Linked DNA regions of Homo sapiens. The protein of the gene in region 5 purifies or fractionates together with the protein of the main gene of each other region. This does not show direct contact. Each region holds a gene or a part of one and is shown on either strand. Other genes may lie near its edges. The genes, in order: EML3, GRAMD1B, PIP4K2A, NAXD, MAEA, POTEI and SYT1.

The links.
Region 1: the proteins of MAEA (region 5) and EML3 purify together in Homo sapiens (co-immunoprecipitation; one large-scale study listed by IntAct). This does not show direct contact.
Region 2: the proteins of MAEA (region 5) and GRAMD1B purify together in Homo sapiens (co-immunoprecipitation; one large-scale study listed by IntAct). This does not show direct contact.
Region 3: the proteins of MAEA (region 5) and PIP4K2A purify together in Homo sapiens (co-immunoprecipitation; one large-scale study listed by IntAct). This does not show direct contact.
Region 4: the proteins of MAEA (region 5) and NAXD purify together in Homo sapiens (co-immunoprecipitation; one large-scale study listed by IntAct). This does not show direct contact.
Region 6: the proteins of MAEA (region 5) and POTEI purify together in Homo sapiens (affinity purification with mass spectrometry; one large-scale study listed by BioGRID and IntAct). This does not show direct contact.
Region 7: the proteins of MAEA (region 5) and SYT1 purify together in Homo sapiens (co-immunoprecipitation; one large-scale study listed by IntAct). This does not show direct contact.

The regions. Positions count from the first base shown.
Region 1 is NC_000011.10:62,606,276-62,609,775, forward strand, and holds part of EML3 (echinoderm microtubule-associated protein-like 3), read right to left. Parts: intron 3,422-3,500; coding exon 3,354-3,421; intron 3,203-3,353; coding exon 3,079-3,202; intron 2,858-3,078; coding exon 2,687-2,857; intron 2,531-2,686; coding exon 2,461-2,530; intron 2,378-2,460; coding exon 2,267-2,377; intron 2,022-2,266; coding exon 1,926-2,021; intron 1,547-1,925; coding exon 1,391-1,546; intron 825-1,390; coding exon 683-824; intron 1-682. UniProt on the Homo sapiens protein: Regulates mitotic spindle assembly, microtubule (MT)-kinetochore attachment and chromosome separation via recruitment of HAUS augmin-like complex and TUBG1 to the existing MTs and promoting MT-based MT nucleation.
Region 2 is NC_000011.10:123,604,769-123,608,268, reverse strand, and holds part of GRAMD1B (protein Aster-B), read right to left. Parts: intron 2,948-3,500; coding exon 2,791-2,947; intron 1,661-2,790; coding exon 1,471-1,660; intron 1-1,470. UniProt on the Homo sapiens protein: Cholesterol transporter that mediates non-vesicular transport of cholesterol from the plasma membrane (PM) to the endoplasmic reticulum (ER).
Region 3 is NC_000010.11:22,585,579-22,589,078, forward strand, and holds part of PIP4K2A (phosphatidylinositol 5-phosphate 4-kinase type-2 alpha), read right to left. Parts: intron 1-3,500. UniProt on the Homo sapiens protein: Catalyzes the phosphorylation of phosphatidylinositol 5-phosphate (PtdIns5P) on the fourth hydroxyl of the myo-inositol ring, to form phosphatidylinositol 4,5-bisphosphate (PtdIns(4,5)P2). Has both ATP- and GTP-dependent kinase activities.
Region 4 is NC_000013.11:110,629,045-110,632,544, reverse strand, and holds part of NAXD (ATP-dependent (S)-NAD(P)H-hydrate dehydratase), read right to left. Parts: intron 1-3,500. UniProt on the Homo sapiens protein: Catalyzes the dehydration of the S-form of NAD(P)HX at the expense of ATP, which is converted to ADP.
Region 5 is NC_000004.12:1,317,391-1,320,890, reverse strand, and holds part of MAEA (E3 ubiquitin-protein transferase MAEA), read right to left. Parts: intron 1-3,500.
Region 6 is NC_000002.12:130,474,829-130,478,328, forward strand, and holds part of POTEI (POTE ankyrin domain family member I), read right to left. Parts: intron 1,874-3,500; coding exon 1,803-1,873; intron 124-1,802; coding exon 79-123; intron 1-78.
Region 7 is NC_000012.12:79,294,774-79,298,273, reverse strand, and holds part of SYT1 (synaptotagmin-1), read right to left. Parts: intron 2,206-3,500; coding exon 2,038-2,205; intron 1-2,037. UniProt on the Homo sapiens protein: Calcium sensor that participates in triggering neurotransmitter release at the synapse. May have a regulatory role in the membrane interactions during trafficking of synaptic vesicles at the active zone of the synapse.

The DNA.
Region 1 (3,500 bases), on a different chromosome or scaffold from region 5:
AGCTTGGCTGTCGCAATACAGTAAGAACTCCCAGCCATTGCATGCACTGACTACTATGTCTCATCCTCATACTGCCAACACATCTGTTATTCTCCCCATTTTACAAACAGGACAACTGAGACTCACAGAAATGAGGTAACTTCCTAAAGGCAAGGCAACTAATAGCAAAACTGGAATCTGAACCTGAGATCTGGCAAACACAAAGCTCCAGCCGTTTCTCCTTTGCTGTGCTGCCCACACGCTTCTAGACTAGCCCCCAAGAGAACTATCAACTCTCAAGGTAAAAAGGTGGGAAACCTGGCTGGGCGCCGTGGCTCACGCCTGTAATCCCAGCACTTTGGGAGGCCAAGGCGGGCGGATCACCTGAGGTCAGGAATTCGAGACCAGCCTGGCCAACATGGCAAAACCCCATCTCTACTAAAAATACAAAAATTAGCTGGGCGTGGTGGCGTGTGCCTGTACTTCCAGCTACTTGGGAGACTGAGGAAGGAGGATCACTTGAACCTGGAAGGCAGAGGTTGCAGTGAACCAAGATCGCGCCACTGCAATCCAGCCTGGGCAACAGAGTAAGACCTCATCTCAAAAAAAAAAAAAAAAAAGATGGGAATGGGAAACCCTCTCCTCTGTTCCCACAGAACCTCTGGAGTACTACACTTCCCAGATGCCCCTCCCAGCCACATACCTTTGGCGCCACCCCTGCCTGGGGTCTTGGAATCTGAAGGGCTCCGCCCCCAGGTGAGAATGTTCCCCTCTGAGTCTCCAGTGAGAATGTCTCCATCCGGAAGGAACACAAAGCAAGGGATAAACTTGGGTTTCTTGTATTTCTAGTGGGAGGGGAGAGCAGACAGTAGAGGTCAAAGGGAAGGGCAAAGATTAAAAGTCGCAGGGCAGGCCAGGTGCAGTGGCTCATGCCTGTAATCCCAGCACTTTGGGAGGCCAAGGCGGGCGGGTCACCTGAGGCCAGGAGTTTGTGACCAGCCTGGCCAATATGGTGAAATCCCGCACTGCACTCCAGCCTGGGTGATAGAGCAAGGCACTGTCTCAAAAACAAAAAAAACAAAAAAAAAACGGGCATGATGGCCAACATGATGAAACCGTATCTCTATTAAAAATACAAAAATCAGCCGGCGCGCATCTGTAATCCCAGCTACTCCGGGAGGCTGAGGCAGGAGAATTGCTCGAACCCAGGAGGCAGACGTTGCAGTGAGCCGAGATCTTGCCATTGCACTCTGGCCTGGGTGACAAGAGCAAGACTCCGTCTCAAAAGAAAAAAAAAAAAAGGTCACAGGGGCAGGTGGGGGTTAGGGAACCTCAGGGTCCATAGTACTCAGCCCAGTGCTTCCTCTTCCACTCTGCCCTCCCCATCACCTTCCACTTATCCATGCCTCACCCCAAAGACACCCTGTTTCCGGGTAAGGGTCCCATTCCCAGGAACCCCTACTCCACCACTCCAATTCCAGAAGTGGACGTGAGATTTCCCACTGGTGACGATGCAGCTGCTGTCACGAGGGTTGAAGCCAACGGCCAGGACTGAGTCATTTGTACTCTGAAGGGAAGACACTAGATTCAGCCACCCCAAGCCCTGGGTACCTTCATTCTACTTGACTCTCCTCAATTTGCATCATGACAGCTGGCTGGCAGAGGTCCAGAAACCCCAGGACAACCCTTCTTTCAAAACCCTGGTCCCCTAAGAGCACTATTTCCTGTCAATCATAATTAATCACCCTAATACCTAACACATTATGCCTCATGAGGTCAGAACCCATGTCACAAATGAAGAAACTAAGGGTCAGAGAAGCTAGGAGATTTGCCCCATGTGACCCAGCCAAAAAGGAAGGAAATGTATGGGTGAGTCTGGAGCTCCCTGCACTCCACCACTCCCACCCCCAACCTCAGAGCCCCTCCAAGCCACATGGACTCCTCACCTTGATCTCAGCCAGCTTCATTCCCCGGCTGCAGTCCCACACCGACAGCATGTGCTCATTGGAATCATCCACCACACAAAGAAAGGCACCCTGATCCTGAAGAAGGGTGACACATAGGAGGTGCAGAGTGAACCCTGGAGGTCCAGGGGTTCATGGTCATTAGGTTAAGAGGTACCATCACAGATGGAGAGGGCAGAAAAAGTTGACACACATGGCCCTTTCTCAAGAGAACCAGCTGGGTGGGGTTCAGGAAGGCCAGAACTTCCAAGGCTTCCTGGTGACATGCAAGAGTGGGGTTCCTAGGCAAGAATGGGGGTCTAGAGGCTTCAGGGCCAGCTCACCGCAGCTGAAAAGGCCAGGGCCCCAACACCCCGCTCGAAGGCCCCCAGTCCAATCTCCTGCAGTTTCAACAGCGTCTCTGAGTCCCAGATGTGAACCACAGGCTGCAGGGGCTGGTGGAGGAAGAGTCACAAGTGTGAAGCAAAATTGGAGTGCAATTCCAGCATGTCTGCCTGCTCCCTGACTTTGGCCTTACCTTTCCATCCTTATCCACTCCAGCTGTCTGTCCCGAGGCTACCCGAACACCATCAGGGTGAACAGCAAGGCTAAGGCAGGGGGAAGACACTCTAGGGAAAGGGTCTCTCAAGACCATCCAAGACACCTTCTCCAAGCTTGCAGAGCAGCAAGGCAACTCTTTTCTCCTGCTTCTCCATCCCCCCAGACCCTCTTCCTGCCAAGCCCACCAGCCCCGGACTCCTCACCATCGAACGCAGTCTGTGTGCCCCCGGTAATGTCTCTGGCCGCCACCTCCAGGACCCCCTGGGCCTCCTCCAGGCCGGTACAGCACCACCACACAGGCGATAAAGTAGACCACCTCCCCAGAGCGCAACACAAACAGATTAGAGCGGGAGTCACGACCCCTGTACCCATAACTGGGGTGGAGATCACGGTCAAGGAAAGGGTTAGATCAAGGGCAGGAGGAGGAAGAGGGGAGAAAGACAGAGCTTCTGGCTGGCAGGGCCTAGAGCAGAATGATGGTAGGAGAGGATCTAGAAGGCTCCTTGTCCCCACAGACCCAGGAGGAAACTGTAAAGGTAAGAGGGGTCCCAAGGTGAGAAAGGTGGTTCTCATGGGACTGGAAGGGGCAGGATACACCCAGTCAAGGCTGAGGGTCTCTGGCGGTGGGCCACTCGGCAGCTCCTCAAGGCTGCGGATGCCAGACGGGATGTACATGGTAATGGGGCGCCCTCGAAGGAACATCTTCACTGAGATGCCTTCTACAGAGAAAAGGGGTGGTGTCAACTACCCCCTTCCAGGAAAGACAGAGCAGAACCCTACCCACCACACCTACCCAAAATAGCTCCTGGGGCTACAGCCCAAATCCTAACCCTGCCATCCAAGTTTTCCTCTCTGTCCCTCTTTACATACCCAAATTGTAATTGCTCCTCCGAGATCCAGGGCCCCCAGGGCTGGAGAGGGGGTCTTTTCCCCCACGGCTGTTGGGAAGAGAGAAAGCACAGGGATTGGGGTCAGGTCCCAAGACCTAAGCGGGGAGGGGCAGGACACAAGAAAAGA
Region 2 (3,500 bases), on a different chromosome or scaffold from region 5:
CGACAACAAATTGTAGTTGTAACCCATGGCATAGGTCTGTTCGAGGGAACGTAGACTAATCTGGAAGAATCAGTGTACAGAACTGCTGCTAAGGCTGGGGCTGGTCCAATAGGCTGTGATCCCTAACTACAGTTCCATAAGACAGCCTATTTCTACCATGATGTCAATACCTACTCCCCTTTTTAAACTTAGGATTACAGCTTCATCATATAGCAAAATAAGAATTCAAATCAGAATGAGAGGCACACAGAGCAAGGTGTGGGAGGGCTCCAAAAATGGAGCTTCCTTCAGTCTCAGGGATGCAAAGCCCTTCTGGCACATCACTGTGTCCATATACAGAAGATTGCCAGCCAGGGAATTTCACCTGTAATCTGAATTTTCCAGCTGCTACAGGAGGATGCAAATGAGGATACAGGAGAGCTGCTAAAGCCTCAGTGCTCCCCCCCGAACCCTTGGCACCCCTCAGTCCCTAATTACTGCACCTGCATGGGTGGGTATGTGATCTCAGGAGGAGGCTGCCATTTCTGGCACCCCTAGGACCCTGAGGAAACCAGAGAACTCTGAAGTACCCTGTAGGGGTCAAGTCCTATGACTGCACAGATGGGTACTGCACAAGTGCAGCGCAGCGGGTATTCACACCTTAGTTTATGTGAAAGGCACCCTGGAGTTAGGCAGTATCTAACCCATGCAGTCACTTGTGCCAACCCTGGACTCTAGATGGGGGTGGGTAAACCAACCAAAAGTTAGAAAACCACTGCAGGTGGCCCCTGGGAGAGGTGTCCACAGATCCACAAGTGAGCACCGTGCTCATATGCTCACCAGTCATAACAGACCACTCACTCAATGGAGGAAATCCATCAATTGATTTCATGAATGCTGAGAATTTGGCTTCTCTCCATGGAAGGTAAGCAGCAGCATGTTCCCAAGGGAGGTTCTAGAAGCTAATCCTATGCAGGCATGAAGTTAGAAGCTACCTGCTTACAAAAATTAGAGAAACAAGGGAGTCTCCAAACCCTATTTGACCCAGCAACACCTTTTCTTCTAGCTGGGCCTAAATACCCCATGCAGCAAAAATTGCATTAACAAGTTTCGCAGCTATCTTGAGGACGTTTCTGTTAAAATCTAATTATTTCCAGGGAGCAGCTGACTGGCACCTTCCTTGTGGCTTATAAACATTGCCTAGACTTGCGTGTCTGTGAGGGTCAGGGTCGCAAGGCAAGCCAATGTCAATAGGGGGAACATTTAGTGACAAGACTAAATGACAGAACAAAGCATTATCTATGGGAGGCTCCTACAGCAAATGACTGAAAACAGGGATGTAAACTAATAACAGGTACCTTTTGTTAAGGAAGCTCTGCTCCCATCTCTCCACCAGGAACCTAGAGACTAACTACAGTCCCCACATAGAGATCTCCTTTTAGCCTTCAAAACAGAGCAAGGGCCACTCCAGACCCATTTTCAAATGCCCACCTTCATCGTGTGTGTCGGAAGAGTCACTGAGCTCAGTGGGGATGTCCTCATTGTCATTGAAGTCCAGTGAAGGGGAGTTCACAGGAGCGATCATCTCAATCTTCTCCCCCATGATGTTGTCAATGGCGAGCTCCTTTTCCAGGGACCCGTCTCCCTCCAGCGCCTCTTCCTCCAGGGGCAGCCCATCAAACTGGAGCCAAGACAGAGGAGTCACCCACCAGGGAAACCTGGTCTGGATCTATTCTCCAAAGGGAGATTAGGGATGCAGCCTTGGCAGCTCTCATACTCCCAGCTCAGCTGCTCAGGAGCGAAGTCAGAGTCAGGCTCCAAAGCCCTTCCCCAGAGCTGCCACAGAGGATGGGCAAACACAGTACAAGGACTACTGCACTTCTCACGCTCGCCATTCCAACAGCACAACAAGCTCCCCAAATGCACAGAGCTGGTCCCCACAGGCCCAGGCCCTTTCCTGGAGCCGCACCTGCACCATCCTGCAACAAGGTCAGCCTGCCTCCAGGTAGTACCTGTTTATCCTAAGAAGCTCGAAAGGCTTCATAAGCATTTTTTAAAACTCATTCTCTCATTAGCCCTGGAAGGGAATCGATACAACTCTTTACATTTTAAAGATAACCTCAGAGATGGAAAATAAAGACCAGGTATCCAATGAATAATGTTTTCATTCTGAAGGCAGGTGGTCTGATCCATAGCCTACTGAAATACAAGGCTCTTTGAGGGAGTCCTTTCCTGAAGAACCCTACCTGTTCTTCTGCCTGCCAGCACATGCCCTGACCCTCTTTCCTCATCAAGGTTCTACCTCCTCTATTAACAGAGTCCCACAGGACAGAGGTTCTCTTACACATTTTTATGGCTTCCATAAAGTCTACCACAGTGGAGAAATAAGCCACAATACGTATACTCAACAAATATCAACCAAATGAGTGGATAAACAATTAATTGTTCTATAGTTCTATATTCATGCATGACTTTGACGTCAGATCAAGGCAGTGAAAAAATACCTGGAATTGTTCTCTACCAGAAGGGCTGATCAGCAGCAGCCCAGCACAGTGGGCTTGAAATGGTTTTCATCTGCTCAGAAGTCAAACCCAGTCTTGTACCCCAGGCACCTAGCCCCAGCTCTGGACCCCGGGCTATGCCACTAGAATACGGAGAGCCCATCTGCTCCAGAATGCCTCCTTGAAGAAACTGACAACAATGTAACCAATCTCCTCTCTACCTGCTCCCCAGATTGGGTTCCCAGTGAACTATGCTAGGAAACGCTGGCCACAGGACTGGGGGTAGAAGTCAAAGGCTGACTGCCCATACCGAGACGGGGGCCTCACTGCTCCCTGTGGATGTTAGTGTGCTGTTGGTGATGGATTTCTTGGGCAGCTGTGGACTGGCATCTGGCTTGGTCTCTATGCTGCTCTTGGATGAGCTGTCATTCACTTCATTCTCTTCCACAGGGATCTCTTCACAGTATCTGAGAGGAGACACCAGTGAGTCCACATTACCCTCAGTGGTTCAAGATGGCCAACTATTCTAAGAATCTCAGACCTTTCTATCCATCCATATCTATGAGATTTCCTGCTTCTTTGCTTTGTGTATGATCTTCCTCTAACCAAAAATCCCCTGCCTACCCCATTGCTCTTCTGAAATCTCCTTCATATCCCACCCCACCCCTCCCTGCCCCCCATGTAAAATTCCTGGCTGCAAACTCACCTTTCCTAGGCAGCCTCCTTAGAGTTATCCCTACCTAACTGAAAGGATTATTTGTCTTAAGCTATTTTTTTTCCATGGGTGCCCATCCTATTTGAAGCCTCTGAATCAAATATCTGGGTTCTGAGCATGCATTTCCTTTCCCAAACGGTGACGAAGACAGGACTCTGGACATGAGCGCTCCTTAAGTGGCATTGCCCAAATTCTTGATGATAACTAGAAAACTTCCCTGCATTATACACCTAGAAAGAAAACCTCCTTGAGATGAAGGTGGGTGCTCGTCGAGGAACACTTCAGGGATGCCGCTGTAGCCTCCT
Region 3 (3,500 bases), on a different chromosome or scaffold from region 5:
AGGGAAGTATGTTACCAACAGTGCCTCTCAATTTTTTTTTTTTTTTTTGAGACAGAATCTCACCCAGGCTGGAGTGCAGTGATGCCATCTTGGCTCCCTGCAACTTCTGCCTCCTGAGTTCAAGGGATTCTCATGCCTTAGCCTCCTGAGCAGCTGGGACTACAGGCATACACCCCCAGCTAATTTTTTGTAGTTTTAGTAGAGACCGGATTTCACTGTGTTGGCTAGGCTGGTCTTGAACTCCTGGCCTCAAGTGATCCGTCCACCTCGGCCTCCCAAAGCACTGGGGTTACAGGCATGAGCCACTGTGTCCAGTCAATACTTTTCAATTTTAATTCAAGTTGAAGCTACATGATACCAAAGCTCCCAATGAATTCACGTCAGTGCGGGGAAAAAAAAAATTCAGTCGATTTAAGATAAAAAGATATTCAAGTAGGCAAATAGGTTTTTTACCATTTTTTCCTTTTTGAATGTTCTAACATTGTTTAGTTAATCAACTGATAATCATCATTTATAGGATCCGAGTTTCTTACAGCCTAACAGAAATGTGAAAAGGATATTTATAGCGAAACATTATTTTCCCAACTACAAGAGAAAATCAAATGAAGTAAACAAAATTTATGAAAGTTTGCTGTGCTTAATATGAATTCTCCATTGGTCTGAGAGATGATGCTCTTCTTTCTTTGCACAGAGTGAAAGCTAGGGTAGAATTTGGGCAGGAAATAAAGAATAGAGCAAGATACTGGAACTTGGGGGAAAAATCTAACTCCTCACGGCTGAAGTCTTCGTAATTCTGCATCAGTGCCACAGTCTACCAGAAACCAGGCCCCCTAGTGGATTAAAAGAGTTAAGGACTGAATGCCACATGAGAATGATTTCAACACTGAGGTGTAGGAAATTAAATACAAGAACGATATTTAATTAAAAATCTTATTCAGTCACTCATTTAGCACTTCTTTTTCTTTTTTTCGAAACGGAGTCTCGTTCTGTTACCCAGGCTGGAGTGCAGTGGCACAACCTCGGCTCACTGCAACCTCCACCTCCTGGGTTCAAGCGATTCTCATGCCTCAGCCTCCCGAGTAGCTGGGACTACAGGCACGTGCCATCATGCCTGGCTAATTTTTGTATTTTTAGTAGAGATGAGGTTTCACCATGTTGGTCAGGCTGGTCTTGAACCCCTGACCTCAGGTGATCCACCCACCTCGGCCTCCCAAAGTGCTGGGATTACAGACGTGAGCCACTGCGCCTGGCCCATTTAGCACTTCTTATATACTAGACACTGCTCTGAGCATGTTATAATATGAATTCACCTAATTAGCACAACACCCAAATGAAGAGGGTACTATTATCCAAATATTATAGACCAAGAGGTGTCAAAAGTATAAGTAAATTGCCCAAGGTCATGCCATTGGCCAGGGGCATGGCTGGGACCAGAAGGTGGCTGGCTGGCTCCAAGTCCTTGCTCTTGAACCACCTGCCATCCCAGATTGCTGGGAAGGTCAGTGTGTCAGAAAATTAAACCTAGGAAGAATTTATTCAAATATTCAAATAACTAGCCATGTTCTACTTCTCCAGAGGCTGGCCTTGGGCAATTTTAACCCTCCAGAATATAATTCCAACTGTGGCTGCATTTCCTTAAAACAAAAAACAACAAAGGAAAAGAAAAAAAAAAGGGCTGTTGGGTAACCAAAGTTGTCAGAAAGTCCATGCAATTCACTCCACGGGAGAAACCCTCTATGAGAGCCTCTCATCAACTGATATGCACCTGAACGATCTGCATTACTTGTCTAGATTCGGAAGGTTCAGAAGCCCAGAGAGTTCCAAGGCAAAAGCAACAACAAGCAAGAAGAAACAGAAGAAATGATGATCACTACTGAAGCTAGAGAGAGAAAGTTTCTTAGATACAAACCCTAAAAGTACTCTAGGCCCACAGAAAGTAGGAATGAAGGCCTGACATATACCTCAAATACCTCTGAGCATCTCAAACCACAGGGATAGAAACACAAAGCTTGACAGGCCTCCCTGGGTTTACCAATGACAGGCCTGTGTCCGGTCACACAGAATCACATGAGGACATGCCAGGCTGAGCCCACCACCCAGTAATATTCATCAAAATCTCGTCTGGAAGTGGCATACAAGAAGAACAGCCTGAAGAACATTCAAACAGAAGCCAGAATGGGAGAGGGCTAGGCAGCCGGTGTGCATTATAGCCTTTCTCTGTAGAACAGCATTTACTAAATGTAAACTACACACTGGTGTGGCCTTTGCTAATTGCTGCGGGTGTGATGTTTGACTCGGCGGACTGCATCTTCCTTCATGAACACCTGCCAACCTGAGCAGGGTCCCAGACCTGCCCTCAGTGAGCCTAGCAGGGGTCACCCCGAATAGATCAGTATCAAATAAGCTGTGTGAATGTTGAGACCTTTTATGAGGTTTCTGTGGAATTCTCTGATCATGTAATTAACACTGTTACTCTTCACTGCTGCTGTATTTTTAAAAACCTCTTCTATGTGAGATTTTGCTGAGATGTATATGAGTGGCATGTCCACCTTTAATGGTCAACGTTTGTGTCACCTATACATTTCCTTGTTCTTAATTTGCTTTCGTTTAAATGTAATTTAAAAATGGACAAATTAGCAAAACGGTGCTGCAACTGTGGCTGTATTTATACATGGCCTATACTGATAATTAGCAGCCTATACGGACAATTTTTTTTTAAGTTCTCTAACATTCTTGTATGTTTCTCAGCTTGTGGCAAGGATGTTGTTTTATCAGGTCAGATGTCCCTGTGTCCGCTCTGTGGGGAACTCCTTAGAGTCAACCCTGTTGCATCTTAGTACCAAGACCACTTACATTTCTCCTTGGCAACAGACTCAAAGTATCAAGCATGCTGGTCATCTTGGCATGAATATCTACGCTCATTCCAGGCTCCATTTTGTGCCTTTATCTTTCTGCCTCTTCCTTTTCTTTTTTTCATTTATTCTAGCTTGTATTTCCAACTTCTTTGAAGGCCACCTTAAATCCTTTCTGGAATAAGGTCAAGAGTGAATACATGAATAAATGAATGAATGAATGAAATGCAGGTGCAGAAGCTGAGTTCAGAGATCATCCAAGAGGCAGTTCCTAACAGGTTAGGATCTATGTCTCCTGACTTCTACTTAGTGCCCTTTAAATAATTTATATTAATAATGTGATTCCCAATCATTAAGACCCTACAAATTATATTTAAAATATTCTGTTTATAAAAAGAAAAAGTATAGATGTTGGATAAAGGAGACTTTTCTGAATAAAGAACTCACCAATAAGATAACAATTTTGTAGCAGTGGAACAGAAGGAAGTCTTTATACTGTTAAAGCCCCTGGGAGGTGTCAATAGACTTATTTTGATCCCACACTTATTTTATGTAACACTGGGGATATGTCAAATCCCTATGTTAGGTTACAATAACTAACCCAGAGAAAACATTTCAAATCGTGATTTTTGTAAAGTCAAAGGATGC
Region 4 (3,500 bases), on a different chromosome or scaffold from region 5:
TAGCTCAGGGATTGTAAACACACCAATCAGTGCCCTGACAAAACAGGCCACTCGGCTCTACCAATCAGCAGGATGTGGGCGGGGCCGGATAAGAGAATAAAAGCAGGCTGCCCGAGCCAGCATTGGTAACCCGCTCGGGTCCCCTTCCACGCTGTGGAAACTTTGTTCTTTCGCTCTTTGCAATAAATCTTGCTACTGCTCACTCTTTGGGTCCACACTGCTTTTATGAGCTGTAACAGTCACCGCGAAGATCTGCAGCTTCACTCCTGAAGCCAGCGAGACCACGAGCCCACCGGGAGGAACGAACAACTCCAGACGCGCTGCCTTAAGAGCTGTAACACTCACCGCGAAGGTCTGTAGCCTCACTCCTGAGACAGAGACCACGAACCCACCAGAAGGAAGAAACTCCGAACACATCTGAACATCAGAAGGAACAGACTCCAGACGCGCCACCTTAAGAGCTGTAACACTCACCGCGAGGGTCCACGGCTTCATTCTTGAAGTCAGTGAGACCAAGAACCCACCAATTCTGGACATAAAAATACATGCTAAGAATAATTTAAAGTATTGAAAACTAAAGCCGTGTATATTAAATGAAATTTGAAAGCTGACAAAGCATTAGCTGCTCGCCTAACAAAGTGCTCATTTCAGCCTGTTTATGACGCACATTCCAGCCATAGGAAAGTGTGTATTTGGCTCTGACACTGGTCCGAGCATTAGCAGTGTGTCCTGAAGCCCCTTCCAGGGAGGCAGGTACCTGAGACTTCATGGAAGTTTATTATTCCCTTTATTAACAATAAAAATTCTTTGTCTGCTTGCCCTGAGTTTGGCTTTACTGTTAAAACTGGCAGGCTTTTGCTAATTCAGATTTTAGATCAGTTTCTGATTTCATGTTGCAGTATTTGGCAACAATCTGACATTTTCATCTGTTTCTGTGTTTTCTTTTAATGTATTTGCAAATAGTACTCAAAAGTGAATATTCAAACCCTGGAAAATGCAATGTTACATGGGTCTCCTAGAAAGGTTTGCAGCATCAGAGCACCCAGCGCAGAAGGGTGTCCCCACCCATGGGAAAGCAAACCTTGGTACACTAGGGAGAAATCTGGGGGCATCTCTCAAAAATTTAAACGTCCTTACTCTGATTCAGCAATGGAACTTCACCCAAAAGAGTGCACAAAACACATAGATTCAGGACACCACTGATGTTAACATGAAGAAAAAGCTGAAAACAGTGTAAATGAACTAAATACACTGTAGTAGATCCATAAATTCTGATGTGGCTGTTAAAAATAATGAGTATCCACATATCCTTCCATGAAAAAGTCTCCAGGACACACTGTTAACGAGTGTGCAAAGAGCACAGTGTGAGGACAGGTGCATTGGTCAAGAGCCTGCGCTCCAGATTCAGACAACGTGGGTTCAAAGCCAGCCCAGGAACCAGAAGACTTAATGTTGTTAGACATTCCCCCAACTGATCTTCAGTTTCAACATCATCCCTACCAAAGTTGCGGCTGCCTATTCCACAAATCAGCAAGCTGATCCAAAACTGGAATGCATGGGACCCAGGAGAGCCAAAACAACCTTAAAAAGAGCGAATTTGGAGGACTCGGGCTTTCGACGTCAAGGCTTCCTACACAGCCACAGCAGTCAAGACCGGGCAGTTGCAGGACAGCTGTACAGATCAACAAAACAGAAACAACAGTCCAGAAATAAGCCTTCACATTTAGGGTCAACGGATTGTCAGGGAGGATGACAAGTTGGGAGGAAAAAGGAGTCTCTCCAGCACATGGTGCTGCAACAGCTGGACACCCACAAGCAAAAGACTGACGCTGGAGCCTCCTCCTACCACACCAGCATCAGCTCGACATGCACCGCAGAGCTAAAGTAACAACCAAAACAATAAGGCTCTTAACATGTAGGAGTAAACCTTGGGTTAGGCAGAAGCTTCTGAGATAAGACACCAACAGCACAAGGGACAAAAGAAAAAACAGCTAAATTGGACTTCAAAATTAAAAACTGTGCTGTAAACAAAACCATCGAAGTGAAAAGACAACCTACAGAATGAGAGGATATCGGCAAATCGTCTCTCTGATAAGGAACCTGTGTCTAGAACGTATATGAAGAACTCCTAAAAGTCAATAAAAAAAAGGCAAAAAACAGTTTTCAAAGTGGGGAAAGGGTATGAATAGACACTTCTCCAAAGAAGATACCCAAAGAGGCCAGGCATGGTAGCTCACGCCTGTAACCCCAGCACTTTGGGAGGCTGAGGCGGGCGGATACCTAAGGTCAGGAGTTCGAGACCAGCCTGGCCAACATGGTGAAACCCCATCTCTACTAAAAATACAAAAATTAGCTGGGTGTGATGGTGGGCGCCTGTAGTCCAAGCTACTTGGAGGCCAAGGCAAAGGAATCACTTAAACCCAGGAGGTGGAGATTGCAGTGAGCCAAGATCACGCCATTATACTCCAGCCTGGGTGACAGAGTGAGAATATGTCTCAAAAACAAAACAAAACAAAAACAAAAAAAAAGATACCCAAACAGCCAATGAGCACATGCAAAGATGCTCAACAGCATCAGCTGCCAGGAAAACGCAAACCAAACCACAGTGAGGTCGCTCCACGCCCACTAGAGTGGCTGCTAAGTAGACAACAACAGTAACAAGTGCTGGGAACGATGTGGAGAATCAGAGCCCTCGCACACTGCTAGAGGGAATGGAAAATAGTGCAGCCGCTATGGGAAACAGTGGCAGGGCCTCAAAATGTGAAACACTTAACACCCAGGAGAGTGAAAACACATCCACACAAAAAGTGGAAACCAATTTTCCATAAATTAATCAACAGATAAACCAAAGGTGGTGTATGCATACAGTGAAATATTAGATATAAAAAGGAATGGAATACTGATACATGCTACAACACAGGTAACTCTAAATATAAAATTATGCAGAGTGACATAACTAATCACTAAATAGCACACGTTGCATAATTCCATTCATATGAAATGTCCTGAACAGGCGAATCCAGAGAGACAGAAAGCATACTAGCTGAGTGGCTGCCAGGAACTGGGGAGACTGGGGAACAGGGAGCAGATGCTAACGGGGATGGGCTGCTTCTGGAGGCAATAAACATATTCTAAGGTTGATCATGGTGATGGTTGCACAACTATGAATATACTTGAAGCCACCGCATAGTTCACTTTAAATGGGTGAGGGGTATGGTAGGTAAATCATCTAAATAAAGTCGTTTTTAAAAAACCATCTCTGCAGTTTCTTTGCTACCAGATCCCACGGGCGTCTTGAATCCTTGCCAGGACTCAATCTGTCATCAGAAGAATGGGGCTATGAATAGGAATCTACCTAATCGGGTTGTTTTCAGGCCTACACCAGATGATGACCTCATTCAGGAACGTCGACGAAGTAGGAAGCCTCTGCTCCGCACCAGACACGAGCTGGAAGCTGACGAGGAGGCGGCAGCCCACGCTAGATGACCTGAGGGCTCTCA
Region 5 (3,500 bases):
CTGAACTCGTGATCTGCCCACCTTGGCCTCCCAGAGTGCTGGGATTACAGGCGTGAGCCACCGTGCCCGGCCTCTTGCATGTTTGCTTTGATGATTTCTTTTCTGAAGCCCCTTCATAGCGTTTTCTTGCATGTTCGCTTTGATGATTTCTTTTCTGAAGCCCCTTCATAGCGTCTTCTTGCATGTTCATGTTGATGATTTCTTTTCTGAAACCCCTTCATAGTGTCTTCTTGCACGTTTGCTTTGATTATTTCTTTTCTGATGCCCCTCCATAGCGTTTTCTTGCACGTTTGCTTTGATTTCTTTTCTGAAGCCCCTTCATAGCATTTTCTTGCAGGTTTGCTTTGATGATTTCTTTTCTGAAGCCCCTTCATAGCGTTTTCTTGCATGTTTGCTTTGATGATTTCTTTTCTGAAGCCCCTTCATAGCGTTTTCTTGCATATTTGCTTTGATAATTTCTTTCTAAAGCCCCTTCACAGCGTTTTCCTGCATGTTGATGATTCTTTTCTGAAGCCCCTTCATAGCATTTTCTTGCATGTTTGCTTTGATGATTTCTTTTCTGAAGCCCCTTCATAGCATTTTCTTGCACGTTTGCTTTGATTTCTTTTCTGAAGCCCCGTCATAGAGTTTTCTTGCACGTTTGCTTTGATTTCTTTTCTGAAGCCCCTTCATAGTGTTTTCTTGCACGTTTGTTCTGATGATTTCTGAAGCCCCTTCATAGTGTTTTCTTGCATGTTTGCTTTGATGATTCTTTTCTGAAGCCCCTTCATAGCGTTTTCTTGCATGTTTGCTTTGATGATTTCTTTTCTGAAGCCCCTTCATAGCGTTTCCTTGCATGTTTGCTTTGATGATTTCTTTTCTGGAGCCCCTTCATAGCGTTTTCTTGCATGTTTGCTTTGATGATTCTTTTCTGAAGCCCCTTCATAGCGTTTTCTTGAATGTTTGCTTTGATGATTCTTTTCTGAAGCCCCTTCATAGCGTTTTCTTGCATGTTTGCTTTGATGATTCTTTTCTGGAGCCCCTTCATAGTGTTTTCTTGCATGTTTGCTTTGATGATTTCTTTTCTGAAGCCCCTTCAGGGCAGGCGAATGTTGGGTCTCCCACAAAGTCTTACTTTGTTTTGCAACTTGAAAAACCATTTTTTTTTTTTTGAGACAGGGTCTCGCTCTCTTGTCCAGACTGGATGGAATACAGTGGTGAGATCATGGCTCACTGTTGCCTCAAATTCCTGGGCTCAAGTGATGCTCCCACCCTGGTCTCCCAAAGGCCTTGTTTTGTAGTTTTGCTCTAAATTTCAGGAGGTGGCTCCTGGTCTATATCCTGCCTCATGTCCCGTCAACACAGCCTCGGGGTCTGAACCCAGTTGGATCTCTCTTACTGAGGGTTTCTCCAATGTCCGGGTCTCCGGTTGTGAGAGTCACATGAAAGATGTGAGGCCAGCTGGCAGCAGGCTCGTACGTCAACTGAAACTAGAAACCATCTAAGTGAACTGGTTTTCTGTCTCACACGAAATGCTCATGCTGACTTTTGTTTGTTTTGAGACAGGGTGTTGTCCTGTTGCCCAGGCTGGAGTGCAGTGGTGCAATCTTGGCTCACTGCAGCCTCCACCTCCTGGGCTCAAGTGATCCTCCCACTGCAGCCTCCAGAGTAGCTGGGACCCCAGGCACCCACCAACACTCCCAGCTAATTTGAAAAAAAATTTGTAGAGAAGGGTTCTCACTTTGCTGCCCAGGCTGGTCTCAAACTCCTGGGCTCAACAGATCCGCTCGCCTCAGCCTCCCAGAGTGCTAGGATTACGGGTTGAGAGCCCTGCGTCCAGCCTAAGGCAGCACAGGCAGGCGCACAGCACCAGCCACACTGAGGACTCTGTTCTGCCCCTCCTGGGCAGCCTTCCCTCGGCAGCAGGCTTCCTGTCCTGTTCCTGTGTGGCCTTCCCTGGGCAGCAGCTTCCTGTCCTGTTCCTGGGTGGCCTTCCCTTGGCAGCAGCTTCCTGTCCTGTATTGTCTGGGACCTTGCTCCAATCCAGAGCATGAGGTTATTTTCCTAAGTTTGTCACGTCTCCAATTTTGGTGCACAGGAATTTTGGTGCACAGGTAGGAAACTGGGGTCCCACGTGGGAATTCCATGGCGCCCCCTACAGGAAGTCCAGGTCTGACCAGCGCAGCCGGGGTTTACATTTCCACAACCTGGCAGCTCCCCCTCGGCCACAGCAGCACCTTCCCCAGGGCTTCCTAGTGCCATGGTCACCTGTGGTCAAAAGCGATTCCTCAGCTCAACGCCCTCCGGAGCATCTCAGCAGAAAGAACCCCTCCCCCGCAACCCAGTCCTCATGGGCTCCACACGCCCGCCTTCTTCCACACAGCAGCTCCAGGCCCTCTTTTGGACAGACATGCTCAGGGCACCCCAACACCTTGAGTGTAGCCCGTCTCACCCTGCTGAGGCCTACTCCAACTGGCCTTAGAATCATCAGCACTCCCATATCCACCCTGCTCTACGCACTTCTGTGGAACGCGTGGCCTGTGCCCACCACAGGACCCCCTTCTTTCACTTCACGTCTCTCTCCCCCAACACAGCGCACATTCCCTGGGGCCAGGGGCACCCACAGCTCATGCTTCAGCAGCCACCGCCAGGTTGCTTGGTCACACCCCATGGGTCCCAAGGACAGTGTGCTGGGCGTTTAGGAGAGGATGGCTAGGTCATCTATGAACACACGGGGGGCCGCCCCAGGCAGCCAGGACATGTGGGCAGCACGGAGCGAGGGCCTGTGCATTGGGGGAAGCCGGGCACACGGGGCCAGGGAGGCGGGTGGGTGGGAAAGGCATGTGGGACAGGGCACCGGAGCGGACATGTGCTGGCCCACTGTCCGTCACATGAGCCTGGGCAGGTGCAGGTGAGAATGCCCTTCCCTGACACCCAGGTGGAGGAAAAATGGCACCAGATGGGGGCCACAGCAGCCCAGTGGGCAGCACGGCAGAGGCATCACAGACGACCCCGTCCAGCGATGAGAATGTTGGGTGCACACTGGAGTGGCTGCGAGTCATGACCTGGAGACTTCGGAAACTCAACAAGACTGCAGGGCACCCAGGGGCACCAGCCCCGGTCACCGCAGAGGATCAGTGCACTTTGCCATCTGGCAGATCAACTCATGGCACAGCTGTGACACATCACATTCACGCTTGTGAACCGAGACGCCATACCCCAGCGGTGCCGAGAGCAACAGTGCTGTGCAGGTCTGGGCAGATGAGGGCCTCCAGGACACGAGGACTCACTCGCTCACCCTGCCCACTGGGCAGCTGCTCGCCACTCCCCTCCTGGAGGGCAGGACGGACACCACACACACACACAAGCAGGGAGGCTGTGCAGCAGTGGGGAGAAGGCATGGGTGGGAGGGTGCCGCTCCACCCAGGGCAGCATCTGAGAGAAGGTGAACGAGGTGCGGGACAAATGCCGAGGACAAGAGCCAGCAAGAGGGTGGGGCCAGGTGGGTCTGCGGGTGAGTC
Region 6 (3,500 bases), on a different chromosome or scaffold from region 5:
CCTACATTTACTACACTTTGTTAAACAACATAATGTAAAAATCTAATTCAACACAAACATTTGAATATAAAGGTATACCTCTCTATCACCATCCTTATTTATTTCTGGTTCTTGAGATCTTTTCTGCAGATGTAAAAACAGAAGGTTAATTTGCTTGTTGTATTTCTGTGACATTTCCTCTTTTGGAGTGCATGTTTTTAAAATAATTTTATTCTGAAGTAATCAAGTATGGACAATAAAAATTAGAAAGTAATTAAAATTAAACTGTTTAAATAAATAATAATTAAAATTAAGAATTAACTTTTTAATCTATGTTTAGCTACTGCCACATCACTGGCTTCTAACATGTGAAAAATAATTCACCTTAGACAAAGGGAGAAGAAAAACATGAACCAGCAAACTTAACTTTCTCACTATTTGTTTGGACTAAACTTAATTTGTTATGTGTTAAATCTACCAAAAATGAATCAGCAGATGATTTGTAGTGTTCCAAAATCTTCCTCACTTGAAAAGAGTTTACCTCATGAAACCCTAACTAGTGAGCCCCTACAGTGCACTGAAGTGCTTTTTTAAAAGATTCCTAACTGGATTGTAGGCACCCTTTAAACTATTAGGAGCCGAAATCAACACCAAACAGAAAGAAATGCAAATTCTCACATTTTAATTGAAATTATATACTGTCATATGATAGTGTTATGTATCCAGATTATCTGCGTAAGTCCAGTTCTAATATATTCTAATGTGTACTAATGACAGCAGATAGAATTTTTTAATCTGTACTGATTTTCTGCAACTGAAATAAATTAGAATGTTATTGTGTTTGTGCACTAACACCAAAGGTCCCATTCTGCAAGATATGGTTCTTGTAATAGGCAGTTGGGTTGCTTTTATGACCTGGTTCCCTCCCTGAACAGAAACACTGAGGTCAACGAGAGACCACAAGGCAGGATATGTCCTTAACCTTGGTATCAGTGACTGACAATATAAAACTGTGGATTTTCAATCACAGGCCATGATTACTCTTTAACCATGAATCCAGCTCAGGGAATCAGTGTTACATTGTTCATAATTCCTATTGCTTAATAATATGATTCAATCATTGATGTTACTTTCTTTATCATGTTAGGGTGTTGTAAAAATAAAAGAACAAACAAAGTTCTGAAATTTGTTTTTGCCTCTATTCCAAAAGGAGAGATTAGCTATAAGCTAATCAAGAAGGCAGATAAGAATATTTTAAAATAAGAGTATTTTAAATTTTATAGTGGGTTATGTTGAAGTTAAATATCAAATATTAAATTAGAATCTATTGATTCTTCTGTTAAGAAGGTTGCTGATTTTATTACAATAAATTTTAAGAACCTATTAAAATATATATATATATTTTTTTCAGATGGAGTCTTGCTCTGTCACCCAGGCTGGAGTGTAGTGGTGGATGTCGGCTCACTGCAAGCTCCCTCTCCTGGGTTCATGCCATTCTCCTGCCTCAGCCTCCCGAGTAGCTGGGACTACAGGCACCCGCCACCACGCCCAGCTAAGTTTTTGTATTTTTACTAGAGACGGGGTTTCACCATGTTAGCCAGGATGGTCTCGATCTCCAGACCTCGTGATCCACCTGCCTCAGCCTCTCAAAGTGCTGGGATTACAGGCGTGAGCCACCTTGCCTGGCCAAAAGATTCTTAAAAAAACAATCTACTGATTCTCAAAGCCTAGTCTGAAAGGTAATTTCATTTGGACTATCTACTATTATTAAGGCAAAAAACACACAACATTAAACAAAAGTTTAAATTTAAAAGTTTCCATGCCTCTGGCTGGCCATTTTCACTGCCTTTAAGCCTTTGTGACTCTTCCTCTGATGTCAGCTTTAAGTCTTGTTCTGTTGAAAAATCCATATATTCAGTTAAAATCAACCACTTAGAACAGTTAAAAACTATTGCCTTTTAAAAACGGATTTGAGACATTTCATTTTATTTCATAAATTGAGTGTTTCATCTTTTGTGAAATTGTCATTTAAGAAATAATTCTCAAAAACTTCAAAAACCCACTTGGGGAGATACCAGATGTCACCAGATTGAAGACAAACAAACATGTCAAAAATTCCCTCACAAATTCATCCACCCAACATCCATGAACAAAACCACCAGAAACACAGCTTTAAAATACAGTAGAAACATATAAGGTGACACAGTGTACTGTTCTCCACTTCCTAATAGTACCTTATAAATGATTTCCAAAATCACTGCTGACACCTTTATTAGTGTACAACGTCTTCCTAATATCTAAAATGTTTCCCTCCACTATTCTGACAAATTTATTTTCTTTTTTTCTTTTTTCTTTTTTTTTTTTTATGAACCAGGGTCTTCCTCTGTCACCAGGCTGGAATGCAGTGGCATGATCAGCTCACTGCAACCTCCGCCTCCCTGGTTCAAGTGATTCTCCTGCTTCAGTCTCCTGAGTAACTGTGATTACAGGCAAGCACCACCACACCCAGCTGATTTTTGTATTTTTAGTAGAGATGGGGTTTCACCATTGGACAGGATGGTCTCGATCTCCTGACCTCGTGATCCCCTCTGAAAGTGCTGGGATTACAGGTGTGAGCCACCACACCTGGCCTTATTTTCATCTTTTGAAACAATGCTATGTGAAGTCTTCCTTGATTTTGCATGTCTTTCCCCAAATAAACAGGTACCTCCTTCCTTGAGGCTGCCTTAGTACTTTACTGATTTTTCTACTGCATCTTGACCACCTAAACTGTACATTATTCCTCCACATGTCTGTCCCCTCTGCTCCAAGACTGCAGGGGAGAGTCTTGCACATCATCTTTGTAAAAACAGTCTTTGTTTTACTCAGAAATATTTTATTGAGTCCTGCTAAATACATGCTAGGCATTAGGGTTTAAAAAGAATTAAAATAAAGCCTGTCAGAGATGGCTTTTCTAGAACACATGCCCAAGCAGAGACTTAAATATTGAGACTAGCCAGATTAAAAGGGGTAGAGGGCAGGAAAGGGTGACGGCATACCATGCAGCAGCAAGAGCGGGAGCGAGGCCTGAAAGAGTGAAAGTATTTGCCTACAATAGAAGGATGAGTGAGTAGGGCATTGCCAGCAGCTCAGTAATGCCAGAGACAGTGCACACAGGGAAAAGGGCTAAAGATGGAGAGTGGGGCAGAAGTCAGATTATGAAAGCCTTATGTGTAATTTTAAGATGCTTGGACATTAATGTTCAAAAGTGGTCCCGGGTCCTATCTGCATTTAGATATAGATCATTTCAATGCCAAAACCAATATTCCTAGTGAACAATTATTCATTAAGACAAGGTGACAGATAGCTCATGTGGACACAGCTGAGATGATACAATGTAGCAAATACTAAACAATTCTCATGAACACTTGGAAAGTCAGTTCTATAATAAAGTCATACAAATTATACTAAATCAGTAAATATTTGGTTTGGGAAGATGCTTTGTAAAGTTATAGTGCATATGAATACAATTAACAGTCGTG
Region 7 (3,500 bases), on a different chromosome or scaffold from region 5:
AATGGAAAATAAACCCTTCCAAAGAGCTGACTCTCAAAGAAAGAAACAAAATTTTTTAGAGTAAGGATAAACCCTTGAAAATGTTATTGTATATCTAAAATCTCTCTAGACTTTCTAGTGATTGTACTCAAAGAGCAACAGTCAAAAACCTGGACTTGGGGTCAGACAGACCTTGTACCAGATTTGGACTTTCCAACTAAAGGGCCTGGGGCACGTGATTAAACATAAGTTTATTCATCTATTAAATTGTGATAATACTGTAATAATGGCTGCTTCATGGGGCTATTTTAGGGATGAATGAATATATGTAAAACACCTAGCACAGAAGAAGCACTTAAAAATATTTATTGTTTGAATGATTAGTAGCTCCTTCAGATAACTGTTTTGGGGGAAAAGAAGATGAATTAATTTGGGGCATGTTGAGTTCCTGTTAAGTGATTTAAATCCATTGTAAAGCCAGGCTTCTTTAAAGTCTTTTATACTTCCATTCCTGTATCATATTGCCTCTTGGCATTTCAAGATGAGTAATCTACAATGTCTAACCAGTTCTCTAGAAAAATTGAAGTATTTTTTAATATAGCAGAATATATTATACTTTGGATTTATGTATAGTTTGATCAACCTTTCTGAAATAAAATGAAACTTGATAAAAATGTATAGAGAATTCAAAAATTTCAATAATTATACTTGGTTTTATAGAAATTACTAATAAAATTATTAGCATTTTTTAAAGAAATAATAATGTAGGTAATGCAATACAAAACAAAGCCCCAATACATTAGCTCATATAATTTAAGAATTTCCTTACTAAGTTTTGGTCAGAAACTGCTGACCTAAGTTAAGGTTAATAAATAGATGAATAAAACAACTGTGATTACTATTACAATATTTTTAAAATTTTATTTCCATTTTACGTTTCGTAGTATGTTGACTATAGTGATTAAGCTTCATGAGCAGATACTCTTCATGAACTGAGTATTTCCAGAATGTCTTTACTGCTACTTTAAATTCACTGCTTAGGTACAGAAAAACCAGATTTTAAATAAGATTACTGACAATACATGAGGGACCTTTGTCTTGAAAACTCAGAAATTTTAGAGTGAATAGAAAGACACTTCCCCTTTACATAATTGAAAACAAGGTTTGAGAAAATGACTCATGCCCTCATTTTCAATTTATTTCATCCCAGAATGTTTGCCAACACAAGGCATATGCTAAGCCTGGCTGATGGACGTGGTGATTTTGAATTAGCCTGCTGGCATATTCACAGATATTTCATTTTTCAGAAACATATTGTTCTAAGTAATGCATTAAAAAGTTTTTTTCGCACGTTAAAGATATCCACCAAAAGAATTGTTTTTAATGAATGATTTCAAGCCAAGATCCACGAAGATCCTGGAGACCTGCAGGACATGTTTTCCTGATGAGATATTATATGGCTGGAATCTCTCTGTTGTTTGTCAACTGAGGTGCCTCAACAAGATGAAGAACATCAGGGCAGAACCTAGAGTAAAGGAAGAAGGCTAGAAATGCAATAAAAAATATGTTCATATTCCTTTTATTGATTAGTTAAGAAGAATGACTTTGAAGTGCTCAAATTGCCCTCTACACACACAATTTTGTTACAAGAGTCATGTCTATTTGTACCATTTAAGCATTGGGACACAGCTTACTTAATCCTGGGATTGTAACAGATGTACTTATTTTCACAAACTTTGAAATTCAGAAAAATAATGATTTCATTCCTTTGGCTTTATTTCAGGGAGGGATCTCACTTTTTAGATGTGACTATGACATCCTAGTCATGTTCTAGTCCATTCCATTCTGAAATGACTGAACCGAATCCTACTCTGAACACGCTGAAAGGCAATATCGAATGTTGACTGTAGTGAAGATAAGAATTTTGCATATTCTGACTGGAATTATTGTGAGTGCCTGAACAAGCATTCATGTGCATGTCTATGTATGTGTCAGGATGAGATCAGTCTTTTAAGTAAAACAACAAAGGAAAGGTTATAAATAAATGTTAACAAATACCTTGAAAGTAAATTGCTCATTGAAGACAGGATTAAGGGTTTTTCGGTGGACTTTTGTCTCAAATTTCTTCTTCTTATCAGGTAGCAGAAACACTTTCACGTAAGGATCAGATGTGCCCCCCATGTCCAAGGCGGGCAGTTCGGCAGCCTGAATGATCCCTACCAGCAGCTGAAATAAATGACAGAATACAGCATACATAAATATCAGTGGACATTTTGGAAAAGATCGATTTGTTCACAATGCTGCATATTGGGATTTCTCCCTCTTCCTATTTATTTTTAATAAAACTCTGATTCTCTTATGAATCTGAACACAGAAGGCAAATGAACTGAGCTATGTAGACTTCAGAAACCCAATTATGACTGATGCAGGCTCTGGGAAGCCTGGTTTTAAGCACAAAAGAGGCTTTTAAAAGGTTGCTGATTGCAGTTAAATATGGAGTTCATTTTTGCAAAAGAGTTGTAATCAAATAACTTTCCAGTTGCTAAAAGCTCTTGTGCATTGTTTTTCTTTCCAGAGCATGATTTGTAAGTGAAAATGCATTGTTAAGCAATCACAAGTTTGTAATTACAAAGTGGGAAACTTTTATTCTTTATCAAAGCCTCAGGCTAGCTGAGTAGAAATTTCTTAGAAATTGGGTAGCATTTTGAGATAAAAAATAAGATCTTCTAGTTTCTATTATATTTGACCTTCACTGGTGTGCAGACTACATTTATTTTAACTTACAGTAGAATGATTATTATCTATGAGATTCTGTGTTTAAATATAGGACACGGAGTAAAAGAAATGTAATTTCAGCTTCATAGAAAGCAAGGGAGATTAGAGGTGAGGTTTTTTAATGGTGAGTAACTGTGTTTTTTATTTTTTCCAAACACCACAGAACTATTACATTTCTTTAAGTCTGTTTTCTTACTGATGCATTCTTAAGCCTCATTATGAATATTAAGGTATTATGGTATGGTTAATATTTTTGCGAAGAAAAAAAGAGGTGTGAGTAGACTATCATAGATACTCTGCCATTAGAGATTTTGTGTCAACAGACTGATTTAGATCCATATAGGTAACAAAGCAGACTCTTACTGTTATTCAAGGTATATGCTATTTTGTAAATGCAGTAACACCATAGGTTTTTACATCTCAGCCTGAAAAATCTGAGTTCATGCCTTTTTAGCTAGTAGAGTAAAAAAGCAATTCCCCCTCTTAAAAAAAATGCATAACCATTTTAATTGTGACCCACCGTGTACTTAAGTGCATTTTGGCTAGGTGGCTCAACTTTTAACATGGCCCAATAACCTGAATGATTATGTTGTTTCTATTTTAATGCTTCAATATCTTTTTTTTTTTTTGTGGAATCATGATACAACAGTGGCAATAAGAGTGCTAGATTGTAGGTAAACAAAACACAGACAGATGGTCAAAAAACAGCTAAAATAGGCATCGGATTATAAAGACATGATTAGTAA